Linked DNA regions of Homo sapiens: regions 2, 3 and 4 are each reported to be linked to region 1. The links are microRNA targets in miRTarBase. Many come from high-throughput screens and were not tested one by one. Region 1 holds a microRNA gene; each other region holds the end of a gene's coding sequence.
The links. The annotated mature microRNA hsa-miR-548b-5p reads AAAAGUAAUUGUGGUUUUGGCC and lies in region 1 at 3,609-3,630, opposite strand. An mRNA with a match to its seed (bases 2 to 7 or 8) in the 3' UTR can be bound and repressed. Matches are read on the target gene's strand: a 7mer-m8 pairs with bases 2 to 8, a 7mer-A1 pairs with bases 2 to 7 and ends in A, and an 8mer does both.

Region 2: miRTarBase lists TM6SF1 as a target of hsa-miR-548b-5p. Seed matches in the 3' UTR shown: 7mer-m8 at 2,738-2,744.
Region 3: the mRNA of MTMR6 is a reported target of hsa-miR-548b-5p. Seed matches in the 3' UTR shown: 7mer-m8 at 3,365-3,371 and 7mer-m8 at 4,086-4,092.
Region 4: the mRNA of PLET1 is a reported target of hsa-miR-548b-5p. Seed matches in the 3' UTR shown: 7mer-m8 at 3,663-3,669 and 7mer-A1 at 3,421-3,427.

Annotation. Positions count from the first base shown.
Region 1 is chr6:119,065,490-119,070,634 of GRCh38, forward strand. It overlaps MIR548B (microRNA 548b), which reads right to left and starts at 3,654; the gene lies at 3,558-3,654. The region is part of intron 1 of FAM184A (family with sequence similarity 184 member A); the gene reads right to left.
Region 2 is chr15:83,135,948-83,139,947 of GRCh38, reverse strand. TM6SF1 (transmembrane 6 superfamily member 1) reads right to left here. Exons shown (of 10, transcript NM_023003.5): 10 at 2,540-3,467. The coding sequence ends at 3,276. It overlaps HDGFL3 (HDGF like 3), which reads left to right. Exons shown (of 6, transcript NM_016073.4): 6 at 673-4,000. The coding sequence ends at 678. Among named protein-coding and RNA genes, the nearest start is that of TM6SF1, 30 kb to the right of the region's middle.
Region 3 is chr13:25,245,494-25,250,638 of GRCh38, reverse strand. It overlaps MTMR6 (myotubularin related protein 6), which reads left to right. Exons shown (of 14, transcript NM_004685.5): 14 at 1,147-4,417. The coding sequence ends at 1,407. Among named protein-coding and RNA genes, the nearest start is that of MTMR6, 39 kb to the left of the region's middle.
Region 4 is chr11:112,244,753-112,249,897 of GRCh38, forward strand. It overlaps PLET1 (placenta expressed transcript 1), which reads right to left. Exons shown (of 4, transcript NM_001145024.1): 4 at 3,401-4,222. The coding sequence ends at 4,047. Among named protein-coding and RNA genes, the nearest start is that of PLET1, 14 kb to the right of the region's middle.

The DNA.
Region 1 (5,145 bases):
ATAATTTTTTACCCAGCAATAGGTAACTAACACGTGTCCTTCCTTTATTCTTATCTCAGTCAACGTTAATAGTTATCTAGTCCATCTAGTCACTCATTCACTCTCTCATTCATTCAGGAAACACCTGAGTACACAGTATATGACAGACCCGTTATCCTCAATCTTCTCCTACAACAAACTGTCACAAAGTGCTGCCAAATTTATCTCCAAAATGTTTCTCAAATCTCCTCCTCAGATCTGAGATTTCTCAAATCTCCTCCTCAGATTTGATATTTCTCAAATCTCCTATCTCTCTACCACTATTGTCCTAATCCATGGCCCTCATAATTTCTCACCAATACTATTACAATAGCTTCCCATTTAATTTCCTTGATTCCCATCTGTCTCTGCCAAGGGTGATCTATTTAAGACACAGAAAAGCAGTAGTACATGAGAGCTAAGGCAGCTAAGAATCAGGAGAAAGTTCTTTTCACGAATAAATGACCCCAGTATCTTTGCAGACAAGTAAGTTAAGCTTGATAGTTTCAGTAAAATAGCAGCTTATCCATCCCATGTGTACAGGGAAGGAAGAGAGGACACACGGTCCACAGCTGTGAACAATTCAGAGAACAACATCATATAGTGCAGCAATACTGAGTGATCAGACAAAATTGGCCTACATGACTTTGTAGAGAGCCATGTTGTGGTAACAATTTAACACCAAGTGTCTTAAAGCAACACAAATGTACTAACCTTAGAATTCCTGAGGTTAGAAGTCTGAAAATAGTTTTACTGGGCCAAAATCTGAAGGCTCTTGGGGAGAACTTGTTTCCCTGCCTTTTCCAGCTTCCAGAGGCCACCTGTGTTCCTTGGCTCCCTCTTTCACTTAGAAGGATCCTTGTGATTACAGTTGCCCATCCAAATAGTCAAGGATAATCTCCCCATCTCAAGATCCCTAACCTAACCACATCTGCTAATGCTAATGTCAGATAACATCTTCACAGGTTCTAGGTATTAGAACGTGAACATCTTTGAGGGTGCCATTGTGCTGCTACAGTCCAGTTCCATAATTTTCTCTAGCAATGCTCCACAATCCAGAAGTAAGAATAGAGAGAGCAAATAGCAACAGTGACTCAGGATTGAAGGTTAAAGATATACATGGTCCTAAATAGAGCAATATTATAGTAATGAGCTTGGCTCCAGATCAAATTGTTATTTATTCCAGGACAGTTATCTTTGCCAACTCCCTCATGATCACAGTAGTACTCTTAACTGGGTTCCTTTTTCTGATAATTACTAGGGGGTTGAAACAAGAAAGTGTGGACAGATATGAATTGAATTGCAGAAGTTTTCTGTATGTTGCATAAGGTTAATTCAGAAACATCCAACCAAATGTGCTATAGCCTCGAACTGTATAAGATTTCAAGTTATCTTTAGGTACATAGACAAAGACTTTTAACAAAACCAACTCCCACAGTGACAATTTATGCTAGAAAAGAAGTAACTGCAAACATGTTTTAGGCAAATGATGACTATGAAAGATTTTATTTAAACTAAAATAAATTATTTTTTAAAGGTTTTGCTCCATGCCCTGGAATCATTTACATATTTTTTTTCCTTTTTCTGATGTAGGGCAATGTGATAGATTCAAGTTTAGATCTTGAAGATTACAATTAACATACAAGGAAAGAATTTATCCCATGCTTATGATTGTAGGGTGGCCTGTAGGTGACTGGCAAGTCACACAAAAGATTAGTATTTCAGCCTCCATTATCCTTTCCACCCCTTTCATCTGAGGGTGTTTACTGAGATAATGAGAGTCAAAGTCACACTCATGTGAGGGTGTTTAGGGTGGTAATAAGAGTCATAGTCACTTAGGCCCCTAACAATAGCTGATAAACAGCAGGAGCTAAGAAAACAGCAGATGCAAAGTTGTGCTTCCATTTTTAGATACAGTTGATCTTCTTTACTCATGGACTCCCTATTTGTAAATTATCTTACTTGCTAAAATTTACATGTAACCCCAAAATCTAACACTCAAGGTGTGCTAAATAACCTTTGTTCAGGCATGAGTTATAGTGATATTTGGCTGTGGCTTCACTGTTAATGGATCAATATATATTTTAAAAGGTGTTTTAAACAGAAACACACATAAAACAAGGTTATACATTGATCAGTTGGTGAAAATGTTGTGACCAGAGGGTGTCAGGAACCTAGCTCTGTATTCTCCCTAGACCATGCAATACAACGACCACGAATAATGAGAACTGACTATATTTTATTTGCTGCTCAACCTTTACTTGACAGCTATGGTCCCCAACAATGTAGACTATATATCCATCAGAAAAGAAAATATAGCTGGGCACAGTGGCTTGCACCTATAATCCCAGCTACTCAGAAAACTGAGGTGGAAGGATCACTTGACCCCAGGAGTGTAAGGTTGCAGCAAGCTATGATGGCACCCCTGCACTCCAGCCTGGGCAACATAGCCAGACTCTATCTCTAAAAAATAAATAAATAAACAAACAAACAAAATAAAGACATATAAAAACCTACTTTATTGTTTTTTTGTGTGTGGGTTTTTTTTTTTTTTTTTTGAGATGGAGTTTCACTGTGCACCCAGGCTGGAGTGCAGTGGCGCAATCTCAGCTCACCACAACCTCCGCCTCCTGGGTTCAAGCAATTCTCCTGCCTCAGCCTCCCGAGTAGCTGGGATTACAGGCATGCACCACCACACTCGGCTAATTTTTGTATTTTTAGTAGAGACAGGGTTTCACCATGTTGGCCAGGCTGGTCTCGAACTCCTGACTTCAAGTGTGATCCACCCACCTCGGCCTCCCAAAGTGCTGGGATTACAGGTGTGAGCCACTGCGCCTGGCCTAAAAACCTACTTTATTGTTAAAGAGTATGTCAGCAGAGGCTTAACCAAGTGGGGAGGGGATAGTGGGTACAAACTGACTTCTCTCTCCTGCATCAATTATCTCCTTTAATCTTTATAATAATTCTATGAAGTACGCTTTGTCATTCTCATTTTACAGATGAGGACAAGACAGCCCTGAGTGGTTAAAATATGTATTAAAAGTCAAACACTAGGAAGTGGTGAAGGTGAACTTCAAATAAGGGAATGCCTAACTTACTGAACCACACCTCTGACCCATATGATGGGCACTGCTGCCTCACTGGGCCGTTTGGCTCTGGGAACAATGTGGCTCTCCGGCTGCCCATGAGAAACCTAAACCTAACACAAACACATTAACTCCGGGGTTTCCAAGACTGAAATTTCCTTTTACCCGCTCTACCCCCCAGCCAAATATATTAGAGATTTGTAACCAGAATATGTCAACTGAGTCATCAAAACCTTATTAGAGAATTTAGAAGGTATCAGTATAGTTTCTTTATCCAAGAAAAGCACGTACATAAGTTCTACCCAAAAAGAACGAAACCAAATAGAAAAATTTGCCCATGATTACACATCTAAAATTTGTCAGAATTAATGTACTGATAAATATGTTGTAATTAAAATATATGATTAATATATTCCAGTTACATTTTCTCAAGTCTGTTGGAAAATATATGTGAAGTATTAGGTTGGCACAAAAGCAACTGAGGTTCTTGCCATTGAAAATAAAGGCCAAAACCACAATTACTTTTGCGCCAACCTAAATATATAGTCTGAAATGGAATAATAAATAGTATTAAATAATTAATAGTACCAAGCACAATGTCTTTCATAAAGTAGGCATTCGACAAGTTTACCAAACACATAGACCTATATATTCTACTTCGGTCATATCTAAGTATATTTTATTACTCTGAGTAGACCATTAAACACACACACACACACACCTTCCTCCCAAAATTCACTAGGCGAAACATCTAAAGGTAGGCAAAGAATACTATTTAGTATTTTGGTCATAAAATGTTTTCTGAAAGAAATGAGAATCTTTAAAACTGTGCTTAAGGAGCTACAGGATGAAAAATGCAAATACCTGTGAACACATAGACACACATTCGCCAGAATAAACAAAATCTGCTCAACCACCAAGGCCAATGTCTAGAATTTGTAAATATCCAAATGCGACACTTCATTTTATAAGTAAAAAAGACATGACAAGTAAAAGGGCAAGTAACAATTTATTCAGAAATTAAATATCAGCATTCATGGATTTGGCCTAATAGGACTAGCATAAGTTTGGTCCAATTTCCTATATATGCACTGATGATCCTAACAATGATCTGGAGTTGATGAAGAACTCCAGTGTGATATATGAATGGTATGATGTAAATGTAAGTATACTATATGAGAAAGTGAAAACTTATTAACCCCTATGGAAACTTCTAGTTAACTAAAATAATTCATTCTCTAATAATTTCGCATAAATAGGAATTTACCCTGTTATTTTACTAAAATTATCAATTTTATTGATAATTTAAATATTAGTAATGCACTTTATAGATGAAATGTTTTACTTTCCAACTTCCTCAAACTTTGGTATAGAGATGGTACATGTAAATAAGGAAATACAGAATTAGCAATTAAAAAAATCAAAGTACTATCTCCTTTACAATTAAATGAGGTAGCACATGGTAGCCAAGTCTAAAATATCCAAATCCCACATATGATTGTTAATCACTAAGTCTTGTTTTTCCATGTACTATAGATCCTTTGATAGTTTCAGCTTCCATTTGCATCTCAAGATAATAGTGTAAGATACAGGATAAAAAATTCATATATTCAACTTCACTACTTTTTATACATTCTCGTTGAAGTTTTGGTAGAAAAGAAAGATGTAATCCTTGGTGAAATAAGGTTACAAATGACAGTTGTTCACTGATGTAATTTAGTTAAAAGTTAAGAATCAGAGATTTTCTAAAATTTTTGCTTGGTCTTAAAGGTTAAGCATACCAAAATACAACTGGCAATCTCCAACTTGCAAATATCATTGTTTCAAAAATTCATTTTTATATATTAATTGATTGGCAGCCAAAGAATATTTTCCAATATTTTGAAGGACCATTAACTCTCTAGGTCAATCTAAAAAGCCCCCTATGGTTTAGACCACACTTGACATATAAAATATAAACCTAATAGTTTGATATGATTCCCCCATATCAAACTACCATTTATAACATTGTTTTTCTTTATTTTTATTTTTTAAAAAGTAG
Region 2 (4,000 bases), not on the chromosome of region 1:
TGGGGAAATAGAACCAGACACAATTTAAAGTGGGACCCAAATAGAAACATAATTCTTTTATGAAACAAATGTTTTATTTTCTGTTTGTCACACGGATGCCATCTAAATTTTAAAAGAAATCTAGGCTTCCTCTTATTCTTTATGTTTTTTTTAAAAGCAAGAAGTCAGAGACTTTGTACATCATGATTAACTTCTACATTTGTTTGAGCTATGTGTCACAAGTAATTAAGTTATAAATATTCTGAAGATTAATTGGTGCACACTCTAAGTGCTTTTTAAATTTTACACAGCTTACCTTTCTTTCTGAAGAATGTCCTCACAAAGATAGATTATATCAATTTCTCCACTGATGATGTATTCCAGCAATAAACATAGTCCTAGAATTGTAGAATGTGCACTGCTGCACTCTGTCCTAACAGACAGTAGACAAGGTTTATAATTTTTTTCTATGGGACACTAAAAATACCCTAGGATTTCCTTTAACTTTTTGCACTGACAGGTCTAAAGCAAAGCCACAGAAGCTGCTCTTGCTCAGTAAGTATTGTTAATGCTGCAGTGCATATTAAAATTTCAGAAAACCCAATTATGTACTATCTAGGTGTGGATAGCTCTCATTGTTAGTATCCTAAATCATCTAAAGGCTTGTTTTCTTTCTTTTTTTTTTTTTTACAGACCTAACTACCATAATGAATGCTGCATATTAAGAGAAACCACAAGAAGGTTATATGTTTGGTTGTCTAATATTCTTGGATTTGATATGAACCAACACATAGTCCTTGTTGTCATTGACAGAACCCCAGTTTGTATGTACATTATTCATATTCCTCTCTGTTGTGTTTCGGGGGGAAAAGACATTTTAGCCTTTTTTAAAAGTTACTGATTTAATTTCATGTTATTTGGTTGCATGAAGTTGCCCTTAACCACTAAGGATTATCAAGATTTTTGCGCAGACTTATACATGTCTAGGATCCTTTTATCAAGGCAGTTATGATCATCGTTTTCCTGCCTTGACCCCACCATCATCAAACACTCAGTTAAATATAAATTAACATTTTTTAGATGACCACTCAACATAATGCTTAAGAATGGAATTTCCTCTCTGTGACAGAACCCAGGAATTAATTCCTAAATACATAACGTTGGTATATTGAAGACGAAATTAAAATTGTCCTTCAGTTTTGAGGCCATGTGTAAAGTTTAACCATATTGTAAAATATCTATTCCGTATTAGAAATAGCTAGTTGACAGCTTATACTTCTCAAAATTCATATTGTTATGTACACAAACTAAGTTTCTATATGTGAAGTTAGTGAGTCTTTTTGTGTTACTCCAAAATAAAGGCAATGATTTATTTTTTTCCCAGTGCCAATACAATTTTGAGCTAAGCACTCAAGGTGGATACTTTACATTTTAAAGCTGGAATCAGCAACAGCCCTATGGGAAACCAGACAAAGCATTGACTTTTAAATGTAGACTTTTAAAATAAACTGTTTTCTTTTGGAACTACAATTAGAATAGTTAATATTCATCCTTAAACCATTATTATGTGTACATTATTGTTGCTATTGTGATAATAGAGAATTTTATTTATTTTTATGCCAGCTTATATTGTGAGAACACATTTAGTCAGTTTGGGTTTTATCAATCCTGTTAATGCTTGTCCTTGGAACATCTTTCGCGTATTCACGGTTTGTAGTTGAAAAGTTTACTGTAAAAAAATCAAAAACAAAAAAATGTATTGTTTTTACAGAATAAATTTATTGGAATGTGTACTGGGAGTAAGATTTGAGGTTGTAAGCAAACTAAGTTAGTGTAATTTGGCTTCATATATGTAACGTGAGGTATTAATGTAATTCATATATTAAAGCAAAAATTGTTCACAGCAAGCTGACAATAGAATCAAGTGCAGGTGAGGGTTTTTCTTTTTCTTTCTTTTTTTTTTTTTAAACACTCTCTGGGTTTTAGATTATTTGAAAACACTGTAGGGGATGATGGGGAGATGACTACATGATTTGCTTACACTTACATATTTACCAGCCCAGTGGACCCTAGATTTTGTAATTTGATATTATCCATGCATTGATTTGTATCCCATTTTCTTTTGGTTTTCTTGATGAGAGCTAATAAAAACATGAGAAAATGTGAGCAGACCTAAAAGCCTAGGGCCGTTAATAATGATGATGGTGATGATGGCAGCTAAGGGTATGAAAGCACCAGTCCATTTATCATTCCAGGGCACAGTGAGGAGGTGGCTGTTTGTATTTTTGGTGTGTTTCTTTCATTTAGTGAATACTGATTTTCTCTAGTATACTCAACATACAATCCCAAACATGAAAAGTTCATAAAAAGATAGTAGGGATGTCGATCTAATACTTCTTCCTTAAAAGGTCCTTTTTAATTTTGAATATTTGAATGTATTTTTTAATTAATGAAATTTAATTCATCAAAAGACCTCTTCATTGCTCACACTGAAACATAAGGGGAATGTAGATGGCATTTTGAATTGGAATATACAACTCACAAATTTTCTTTAAAAGCGTTTTATGTGTATATATGAAATGTTTCAAATTTAATAAGATTTGTCTTTATAAGAGGCCAAAAATAATTTTATTAAAAATATACACAGAAATACAATAGAAATATTTCCAGCCACCAATAAAACAAATGTTCATTAAGGATAGAGATAAAGTTACTGATCCCTATTTAGCTGTTTAAATTCACACAAAAAAATTTAGTAAAAGTAATTTTCTTGAAACAGCAGCAAATAATAAACTTTCCTTGGGAAAACATTTTTCAAACAACATTTAAAAATATTCTGATGATTTGCCTTTTATATTGAGTTTAATAATGAAGCATATTCATCTTATTTGCAAAAGTTACTCCTCCAGTCTGCATTCACTGTTTTGAATTTTTTAATATGCACAGGCCATATTCTCTTTTGAATAGTTTCATTTCATGCTCACTACTGTTGGCACTAAATTGTAATTTTTTACACTTATAATTATTTTATATGTCAAACAATATTGAGATGGATGATCAAGTTTATTCACAAATGATTTTGAATATATTTCTTTAAACAAACTGTTTCTCAAGAATTTCCATTTTCCTTCAAAAAAAATTTACACAATACCATATAGCTCACACATACAGTGCAGAGCAAGAATGTACATATTCTTAAGTACTCACGTATGAGAAGAGAGTGAAATGGGACAAAATATCAGTACCAGTATAACAAAAGTTAGTAATTTAGAAAGGAGGAACATGAAGTAATATTTTTATTCCACTTTTTCTTCTGCCTTTGTTTTTATGAAGAACTCTGGTTTGTAGATACAACGATAGGCCAAGAGCTGAGGAAGAACTCCATATGCTATGTTTAATGCTAAAAAAAGGATTTTTGCTTCTTCAGGGACTCTGTAGACATAAGCAGTTCTAGCATGAAGAGATGCACCAATGTGAGAAAACTGAGCCTGTTGCATTTAAAAAAAAAAAATTGAGTAAGCATGAAACGTGTTCAGTTGGATGCATGATGAGTTCTGAATGGTTCATTCAGGCTACGTTTCTGTGCCCTCAAAACCAGTCTCACCTGCAGGCAAAATACCTTCAAACAATCCAGAGTCTTTAATGTCAGAGTCTTTCATTAAATTTAGTCCTTGATTAAATTTAGGGCCATTCTTGATATGACTGTTCAAATAAAGTAGATATTATTTAGTGTAGTTTTATCATGCCAGTTGTGTTTTTTAACCATCAAGTGCCCCTTACCGAACATTAGTGGCTCAATCTAATAGAAAAATCTGAATAAAATCTCAAATTTTTTTCTGATTTGCGTTCTGGAGATCCTGCATACAGACTCAGTTGTGGTTCACAAATTGCGTTCCAATAAAAATGAAGAAAGCGCAGAGTTTTAAAAAACAAATATTTTTAGCATAAACTATTGAAAGGGAAGCACTGGGGGGACCTCAGCTTCATTTATCAGTCTTTCATCTACTCCTTGCAGCAAGAG
Region 3 (5,145 bases), not on the chromosome of region 1:
CATTCAGCTATGGATGAATATTTAAATTGTTTTCAGTTTTGGATTTCCATGATTACAAATGAAGTTAAATGACTTTCCATATTTGTTGGCCATTTGGTTTTCCTTTTCTGTGAATGGACTGTTCAAACCTTTGCTCATTTTTCTGTTGGCATATTTGCCTTTTTCTTAGTGATTTGTAAGAGTTGTTTATATGCCAGGCACTAATTCTTTGTTAGTTATATATATTACAAATGGTTTTGTCCAGCCTATTGTCTTTTCCACTTTATTTATGGTATGCTATATATAGATGTTTTGAATTTTCATGTCAAATTGCTCAATGTTTTATGCTTTCTGTGTGTGTCTTGTTTAACAAATCCCTCTCTACCCTAAGACTTTCCTATAATCTTTTTTCTGCCATCCTATATAAGCAAAAAGGATCAGTAAGTATATATATATTTTTTAAATCCTAGACAGTTATAACAGTAAGACTGTCTCATCTACCTCTCAGGCAGGAGTCTCCCTTAGTCATCTTTTAGATAAAGAGGTAATGACTGCTTGAGTAAATTGTAGAAGGATATGGTCAAGAGAGGCAAGTCCAGGATAATAGGTAATACAAGATTATCGGGACAGTCCAAGAATTTGGAGAGCATGATACTCTGCCACAGGACACTTTAAAAATCTTCTGTTAAAAAAGTAAAGTTCTGTTGTGTTTAAAGTCTGTTATTTTTACCTAACAAACCACTGTAGGAAAACCATGTAAGAAAAACTCTATATAGTCAGTGAGCCCTTTAGCTACACAAGTTTGTTTGTTGTGTTTTCAGGGTGAATGTTTCATACACATTTCTTTTATTATAAATGTTTACCTGTTATGCTTTCTAGGTAATATATGTCCATTTTAAGTGTGGAAGCCTAGTGATCGCCTGCAGTCAAGTCTTGCTGGATTGTTTGTTTAATAAATATAAAAACTAACAATTTTCCACAGCAAAAAATTGTACACAATTAGGATTTTCAACCATGTCATATGCATTAAATGTTTCTACTTTTTTGAGATTTAGTTTTGCATTATACATACAGAGAACATATTTTGCAAAAGCATGTTTTCTTTTTTCATGTAACATATTGTGGCTTATGCAATTAGTAATTTTTTCAAATTTGTGTTTGTTCTAGAAAATTAAACAACGCAAAAATAAGCAAACAGATGGCATCCTCACCAAGGAATTGTTACATTCAGTTCATCCTGAATCACCTAACCTCAAAACTTCCCTGTGTTTTAAAGAGCAGACTCTGCTACCCGTAAATGATGCTCTTCGAACTATAGAGGGCAGCAGCCCGGCAGATAATCGTTATAGTGAATATGCAGAAGAGTTTTCTAAATCAGAACCTGCTGTGGTCAGCTTAGAGTATGGTGTGGCAAGAATGACTTGTTAGACTCATAGAGTTTTTTCTGCAATGATTGCAGTACAAGAAAAGGATTATTGTGAGGATGGTCTGTAAGCATAACCAAAAGGAATTTGTCTAATAACAATTTTAGGGTTTAACAGTAGGCTAATAGTTGAAGGAAGGATAATAACTACCCTTGTGAGAGAAATAAGTCATTTTAATTGCATTTCCAGCAAGGAATGACATTCAGTTCTGTAAGAAATGAGTGGTATTTGATGTATTTACTCAAAACACAATTTGCACTGTACACTAGTGAATTGACGTTTATGATTTATGTTAATTCAGCCAAACATAAATAACCTTCCTTAAGTACAATTTAACTTCAAGAAAACAAAATTTGACAACATAGTTTCTTAATAAATGATATGGCATGTACTTTCAATTATGTAGCTTTGTAACTATGAATATTTACATATTTTGCCTTTTAGTGATATTTAATGTTAAAGTGCCATGAAAAATATTTCTAAGAAAGCCTTAAATTCCCAGTGGATTCTTTACCCTTAAGTTTTACAGCCTACAACAAGATTTTTTGTTTTGTTTTTCTTCTGGTCAGCCTTGTTTTGTTTGTAAAGAATTGTGCTCTCATTACTGCTGGGGGTGCATGCTACAATACTTCTATATAAACACTTGTAGAAGTACACTGTTCACGTTTAGCCTGCCCCACTTTTGTATTCAAAATTAATGAAACTGAAGGTTTATTCTGATCATAATTTGTTTAGTGCTACATTTGATAATTTATTATTTACAGCTTAGAATATTGATTTCTTGAATACGTATAAGCACATTTGACTGTCTTTTATATATGGATTACTGCATTCCATTGATTCTTATTTTGTGGTTGGCTTTATTTCTTTCACAACTGTGTAAGTTTAAAGAGCTAAAGCTCTAAAACTGTTCTGAGAAACAATGAATAGTACATGTATATGTATATTTTTAAACTGCCTTATTGCTCAATGAGTTGCTGTTCCTGGAGTATCTAACTTTCAGTTTACTCAAAAACTTTTGGGTAAATAAAAAAGGGAAGTACAGATAGTTTAGGTTGTGCATGGTTGCATGAATTTTGAAGTCATTTCTATGTGGAGCATTATTTTTCTTCTTGTTAAATATAGAAAAAAAAAGAGATTCTAGTACAAAGTTACTGTTTAACAAAAGCAACATAAACTCTGGGAAAGATTTCATTTTGCCATGTTATATTTACTGTTTATTCTGTGTACTAGTACATATCTTTAAATTACCAAAAAACAAGAAACAAAACATAAAAACCCCAAAACTATCACTTGGAATTAGCAATATCACCCAACTGGCTTTAAAATTGAAAATTTAAATAACATGGTGGCATGAAGTACAATTCGAGTATTAGGCAATTTGCATAGTGTTCCTCATGCTACTTTCTGTTACACCTCTATTATATTAGTTTTGAATATAAACATCTTTTTCAGACCAAAAAAAACTTTATTGTATGAGAGCTTATCTTATCCTGTTTATTTTTCCAATGCTTTTCTGTAATACATTATGTAATTTAAAAAATATTCCTTTTTAAACAGCAACAGAAATGCACTATAAAATATAGTATGTGATTAACCAATCCTGCTTCCATATTTAAGCACTGGGAATGGAAACTTAATCTCTGTGACTACAAAGGGAAGTTTTTGTGCCTTGGTGTTCCAGTCACTGATTGTGGTTTTAGAATCTTCTGTGGCTGACTTCTTGTATTCAACTCTGGTTTATTATCTTAATCTTCAACTTCAGACATATATTTGTGTGTTTATATGCTCACAGGTGGACTGAGAAATCAGTTACATCTTAAGTGACCTACAGGGTATATGTTGGCAAAAGCAGACTGTGTATATGTCTTATAAAGTTGAATTTATGTTCAGTGTGTTTGGAAGTGTATAGCATGTAAATTACTTCATATATGATTTAAAGGTAATTAAATGTTCACATTTTACTTTGAATGTTTTTCTTCTGGATAAAACAAATGGAATCAAGTTGTAGTTGTTTTTTTTTTCTTCTCACCTAGGCAAGTAGACTTGCCCATTACATTAACATAACAGCATAAGGTTTGAGGAGTTTATTTTCCAAAAGTTTGTTGATAAATAATACCTGTTTCATACAAAAATAATTTCCAGAATATTTAAAATAGGTATAGTGGGCTAAAAGGCCCATCAGATGTAGGTAATAATGTCATTAAGTTTTCATTTTGTTCCTGTCACTTGCTTATATTACAATCACTATTTTTTTGTGCCCTTGCCAACTTGATGGAAGGCAGGGTCCATTGAGTACAAACATTCGAGGTGAAATGTCTCTCCAAAGGCAGATCTGGATGTAAATATGAGGAAGAAAATAACTGGCTGACAAGAGGATAATTTTATTGAGGGTGTTTTGAAAAGGTCAGCTAGGCTAGAAGTAGCTCAGGGAATCTTGAGTAAAGATGAAGGGAACTCTTTTAAAACAAATTCAATTTATTTGGTCGGGTAGCAGAGCAGGGAGGTGGTGTCAGTCAAGCCTGTTTTGAAACATTTTTTGCAGAAGGTCAGCTTTAAAATATTGAAAAATTTCCAGTTGACATGCTAAGTTGGATTAAATGCTGATCATTTATAAAACTATATAGTTGCTGCAAAAGTAATTGGGGCTTTTGCCATTGAAAGTGATGACAAAAACCGCAATTACTTTTGCACCAACCTAATACTACAGTTGCAGACTTTTATTAGTGACGCTGATCTTCATTAGTCAAGTTTTAGTTATTTTGTTGGCTTTTCCATGTAGAATTCCAAGTGACATTAACATACTTTGATTAATTAAAGAAAATTTGGAGACTGTTTAAGATATATGTCTAGATATCAATGTAAACTATAAGCTTTAGGAACTTACATCTAGAAGAAAGCCTGGAATCTAGAATAATTATCTCAAAAAAAAGTATATATACCATTGTACTTGATATAAGAAAATGTAAACATGAAACCTTGACATTTTAATAAACAGTATTTGTGCTACTCTAGTTATTTCTAGGAAAGTAAAATATCCATTTAAATGGCAACTTTTATAAAATAGTGGCCTGCATAACTGAAAGGAACTTTCAGAAGCTAGTAGTAGACTCTATAGCCCTGGTGTTCAGTTTCTGATTCAGTAGTTAGGGGTTGGGACTCTGGAGTTAAAATCATTTGCATACCAATAAATTGTTTGCACTTAGCAATATTTTGGATATTGTGATGCAAATGGTTGGGGAATCATACTTTGAGAAACACTGCTGTAAACCACCCATCATGGTCAGTAAACATCTTGTTTGTTCTTAAAGGGATGCCGAATTATTCTTTTTTTTTTTTTTTTTTTTTTTTTTTTGAGACGGAGTTTCACTCTTGTTTCCCAGGACAGAGTTAAAGTGGCACAATCTTGTCTCACCACAACCTCCGCCTCTGGGTTCAAGTGATTCTCCTGCCTCAGCCTCCGGAGTAGCTGGGATAACAGGCATGCACCACCACACCGGGCTAATTTTGTTGTTTTAGTAGAGACGGGGTTTCTCCATGTTAGTCAGGGTGGTCTCAAACTCCTGACCTCAGGTGATCCACTGGCTTTGGCCTCCCAAAGTGCTGGGATTACAGGCGTGAGCCACCACGCCCCACCTCAGAATTACTCTTGTATAAAGAGCAACAGGCTAGGGAGCATCACACTTCTGAAACATTGTGATACAAGTGGGAGTGAGAAATAAACCTTTGTTTTAAGCCACTG
Region 4 (5,145 bases), not on the chromosome of region 1:
ATCCCAGGGATGCTTCAAAAATGATTAAATTTACAGAAATAAACATGATGTACCATATTAGCAGAATCAATAACAAAAACCATATAATTTTTTCAATAGATGTCAAAAAGTATTTGATAAAATTCATCCCTTTATCATAAAAACCCTCATCAAAATGGATATAGAAGGAACATACCTCAAATTATTAAAGGCCATCTATGTCAAACTCATGGCTAACATCAGACCGAAAGGGGAAAATTTGAAGGCCTTTTCTCTAAAGACTGGTACAAGATAAGAATTGCCCACTTTTACCACTTTTATTCAACATGATACTGGAAGTCCTGGTCAGAGCAACTAGGCAAAGAAAGAATAAAAGGGCATCCAAATTGTAAAGGAAGAAGTCAAGTTAACCTTGTTTGAAGAGGACATGATCTTATTACTTAGAAAGACCTAAAAACTCCACCAAAAAACTGATAGAACATAAAACAAATTCAGTAAAGTTGCAGGTTACAAAATCAACATACAAAAATCAGTAGCATTTATATGTGCCAACAGTGAACAATCTGAAAAATCAAGAAAGTAATCCCATTTACAATAGCTGCAAAAAATATAAAATACCTAGGAATCAATCTAACCAAAGAAATAAAAGTTCTGTACAAGGAAATAAAATTCTGATGAAAGAAACAGAAGAGGACACCAAAAAGTGGAAATATATTCCATGCTCATGGATTGGAAGAATAATATTGTTAAAATGACAATACTACTACAAACTACTTACAGATTCAATGCAATCCCTATCAAAATACCGATGACATTCTTCACAAAAAGAGAAAAAAAAAAAACAAACCTAACATTTATATAGAACCACAAAAGACCCTGAATAGGCAAAGCAATCCTGAGCATAAAGAACAAAGCTGGGTTGGGCATAGTGGCTTATACCTGTAATCTCAGCACTTTGGGAGGCCAAAATGGGAGAACTGCATGAGGCCAGGAGTTCGAGCCTGCAGTGAGCTATGAGTGCACCACTGCACTCCAGCCTGGGCAACAGAGTGAGACCCTTCACACACACACACACACACACACACACACACACACACAAAACAGAGTGAGACCCTTCACACACACACACACACCACACACACAAACATACCCTGAAACACAAAAACCCCCAAACCAAAAAACAAAGCTGGAGGGATCACAATACCGGACTTCAAAACTTATTACAAAAGCATAGTAACCAAAACAGCGTGGTACTGGCATAAAAGCAGACACATAGACCAGTGGAACAGAATAGAGAACCCAGTTATAAATTCATGCATTTATAACCAACTCATCTTTGACAAAAGCACCAAAAACTTAGAATGGGAAAAGTCCAGTCTTTTCAAAAAAAATGGTGCTGAGAAAACAGCATAACTATGCAGAAGAATGAAACTAGACCCCCATCTCTCACTATACAAAAATATCAAATCAAAATGGATTAAAGAGTTGAACCTAACACCTGAAACTGTGAAACTCCTAGGAGAAAGCATTGGGCAAATACTTTGAGATGTTGGTCTGGGCAAAGATTTCTTGTATAAGACCTCAGAAGCACAGGCAACCAAAGCAAAAATAGACAATTGGGATTACATCAAGCTAAAAAGTTTCTGTACAGCAAAGGAAACAGTCAACAAAGTGAATAGACAATCCACAGAATGGGAGAATGGGAGAAAATATTTGCAAACTATTCACCTGATAAGGGATCAATAATAAGAATACATAAGGAGCTTAAACAACTCAATAGTAAAAAAAAAATCCAATTTAGTAATGGGCAAAAAATTTGAACAGACATTTCTCAAAAGGAGACATACGAATTGCCAACAGGTGTAAGAAAAAATGTTCAGTATCACTAATCATCAGAGACATGCAAATCAATATCATAATGTGATATCATCTCACCCCAGTTAAAATGGCTTGAATCAAAAAGACAGGCACTAACAGATGCTGGAAAGGATGTGGAGAAAGGGGAATCCTCATACACTGTTGGTGGGAATGTGAATTAGTATAGCCACTACGGAGAACAGTATGGAGGTTTGTCAAAAAACTGAAAATAGAACTACCATGTGCTCCAGCAATTCTACCACTAGGTACATATCCAAAAGAAAGGCAGCATGGTGCTCAATAAGTATTTATTGATAAATTAGCCTGAAGCAATGTGGGATAGCCATTACCTAGATCAGAAAGGTGTGGTTTTTATGGATTACACTGTGGTAAAATTCCTTTTATATATATTTTTGAGGAGAGAGGGTGGAAATGTTAACAAAAGCGGGAACTTTTGGAATACAAAAATTAGGATCTTATAGTACTTTCATAGCAACATTAATGAAGCATAAGGTAAATGCTTAGTAAATGATCATTCGTAGGCTTTTTCTCATCCTATAAAATTGCTCAGCCTTTTTGGGGAGCCACCTGTTGTTCTTGAATCAGAGCTGGTGTGGAGTCAACCTAGGAGTCAGCATCTTAGAAGAGATTAGGAGCATGCTACTTCTCTGAGCCCCCAAATTAGTAGATGGATAATCTTAGGAAAATTGGTTGTTTAGTTCCTTCTGGTGAGTATTTTTGGATGCTTGAAAAGAATCGTAGCCAACCCATCTCTTTGGCAGTTAAACAAGCATATATGACTAAGCAGATTGTGTATTTACATAGGACACGTATTACATTTCAGTTACAAACACCAGGGAGTGATAAATATCATCAAGGTGTCCTAAGTGGGGAGGGAAGAATAGAGTCGGAATTCTTACGAGGTGCACAATTTTAGGGATCAGCAAAGAATGTTGGCATCCTGGAATTTAGCATCATTATTAAAAGAAAACTTTGTTGCTTATTACAAGCTTATTACTGGACATACCATGTTTCCTTCTGGTTGTACATTGCGTTATATATATTATAAATAGGGTGTTGAGTCCAATCTCTCTCCTTCACTGCAAGACCCTGTTGCAGTGGTCCCTATACACAAATATATGTGTATATAGGTGTTGTTATCCCACATCCTTCAGCCAGTTAAGGGCAGGGCTGACTCTGAGGCATTGTGGGAATAACAACACTGCCTATATACACAAATACGTGTGTATATATGTGTGTGTATATATAGGTGTGTGTGTATATATATATGTATATATACACACACACACACACACACACACACACACACACACACACACATATATTTTGCCCATTTCTTAACAGAAATTACTATTAGGGGAAAAATGACCAGTTTTCACTTGAGGGAAATGAAAATTGAGATAGTTTTGCCCCAAAGTCTGGTCTTGAAAACACACATACACTCACCATTTGATTCGTTCTTTAATACCCACACACAAATAATACAATTAGACAACATTCTCTGTGTTTTAACTTACTCATTAGAGACTTATATTTGAATGGAACACATTCATTATTCTTGTTTAAAGTATAATTTATTTGTTGTGACAAAAATGTTTTTATAACATAGTTTTTTTCTATATTGGCTTCTCAGACATGGTTCGTTCCTGTTCTCTTGCCCTTCAAAATCTACTGGTGTGGACAAATGGGAAGCTGCCAGCAGCCTCAGAGCTATTTCTCCTTTCTCCTTTCTTTCTTGAGTCACATGAGTCACAGAAGTTCCTTGTAACCTGAATGGGTTTGGTTAGAAATCTGAGATCATCTTGAAAGTAAGGAAGGATTCTTCCCACAGAAACTCAGAGGTTGCAGGGGAATCATTTGGCAGTGAACAAAAGTTGAGATTGGCTGTGGAATTGGCTGCCAACCTGTTCAACCAATAGGGAGAACCTAGGTGACTAAGTTCCGGCCAGTTCTAAATATTTTCAAAAAGTGTAATATGTGTCCTGAAAGATCCAGATGAACATCTATGTGACCCAAGCCTGCCAATGAGTGCCTCCAGATCTTTGTTTTGGTCTGAAGCCGTGGCAGCAAAGTTGCACATTTGAGAATGTAAAGCCTTCATTTACACACATTCGGTTCCCAGCACTAGCTTGGAACTGAATGTAGGAGGATGCAGTGGAGGCAGAAACAATTGTTTCCCTGGCTTCCCTTTAGAAGAGAAGTGTGCTGGTGAGAAAAGCAAGCAGGATATAAATGGCCTCTGTGATGGGGCTGCTGAAGACTTGGTTGGCCAAGCCTTCGAGTCTGATACTCTTGGGTGTAATCATGAAGAAAGGCTTGAAGGCTGAGCTCTGGGGAATCTTGGCAGCTAAGGCTAAGGTTGACACTGGAAAGGTGGTTGAGGGTGCGGTTGGCACTGGAAAATGGCATCGGAACCTCCGTTGGGTGGTGGGTGGGCACTCGAGAAAGGAGGGTAATCTGATGGAATGCTAGAGCCAGATTCATGAGCAAAATTCAATCAACCCTTCTCCAGTGCCAAGTGTTTTCAGAGGAGGGGAAAAGCTGGGGGTTAAACACACAGGGTTAAGTAACAAAAATAAGGAAGAAACACTTTCTACCCTTAAGGTCTGCATAGTTCTATGAGATGAGGTGGAGACCTATTGAATTTATACAACTGCTGCATTTGTTGTTGGGGTGGGTAGTCTCCTCCTGAATGTAATCTTGTCTTTAATAGATTAGGTTAATCAGTGCAAATATGATCCAGAATGACACAATGTTATTTTCTTCTTGTGAATTTCAAGGGCTTGTAAGAACCAGATCCAATCCAGACCTGAGGACGGCCATCCCTGCTTTAAAGTTAATGGAAAGGTGCCCAGTCCAAAGCCCCGACTCTGTTTCTGTGATTTCTGAGGCACTGGTCAGTTTTATATGAAGGGACCTGATCACACATTGGTTCTCTGAGGTTAACTTGCAGAGAAGCACAGAAAGCTAGGCCCATAGTCCTGAGGGGTTGTCTGATCCTGGACAAACTGGAGGTTGGCGGGAATACCTCCAAGACTCTGAGTGGACTGTAGGGAGGTCTGTAAGGAAGAGGAAGAGACCAGATGTCTGTAATCCCAGCACTTTGGGAGGCTGAGGTGAGTGGATCACTTGAGGTCAGGGGTTCGAGACCAGCCTGGCCAACATGGTGAAACCCTGTCTCTACTAAAAATACAAAAATTAGCCCGGTGTGGTGGCAGGGGCCTGTAATCCCAGCTACTCAGGGGGCTGAGGCAGGAGAATCACTTGAACCCGGGAGGTGGAGGTTGC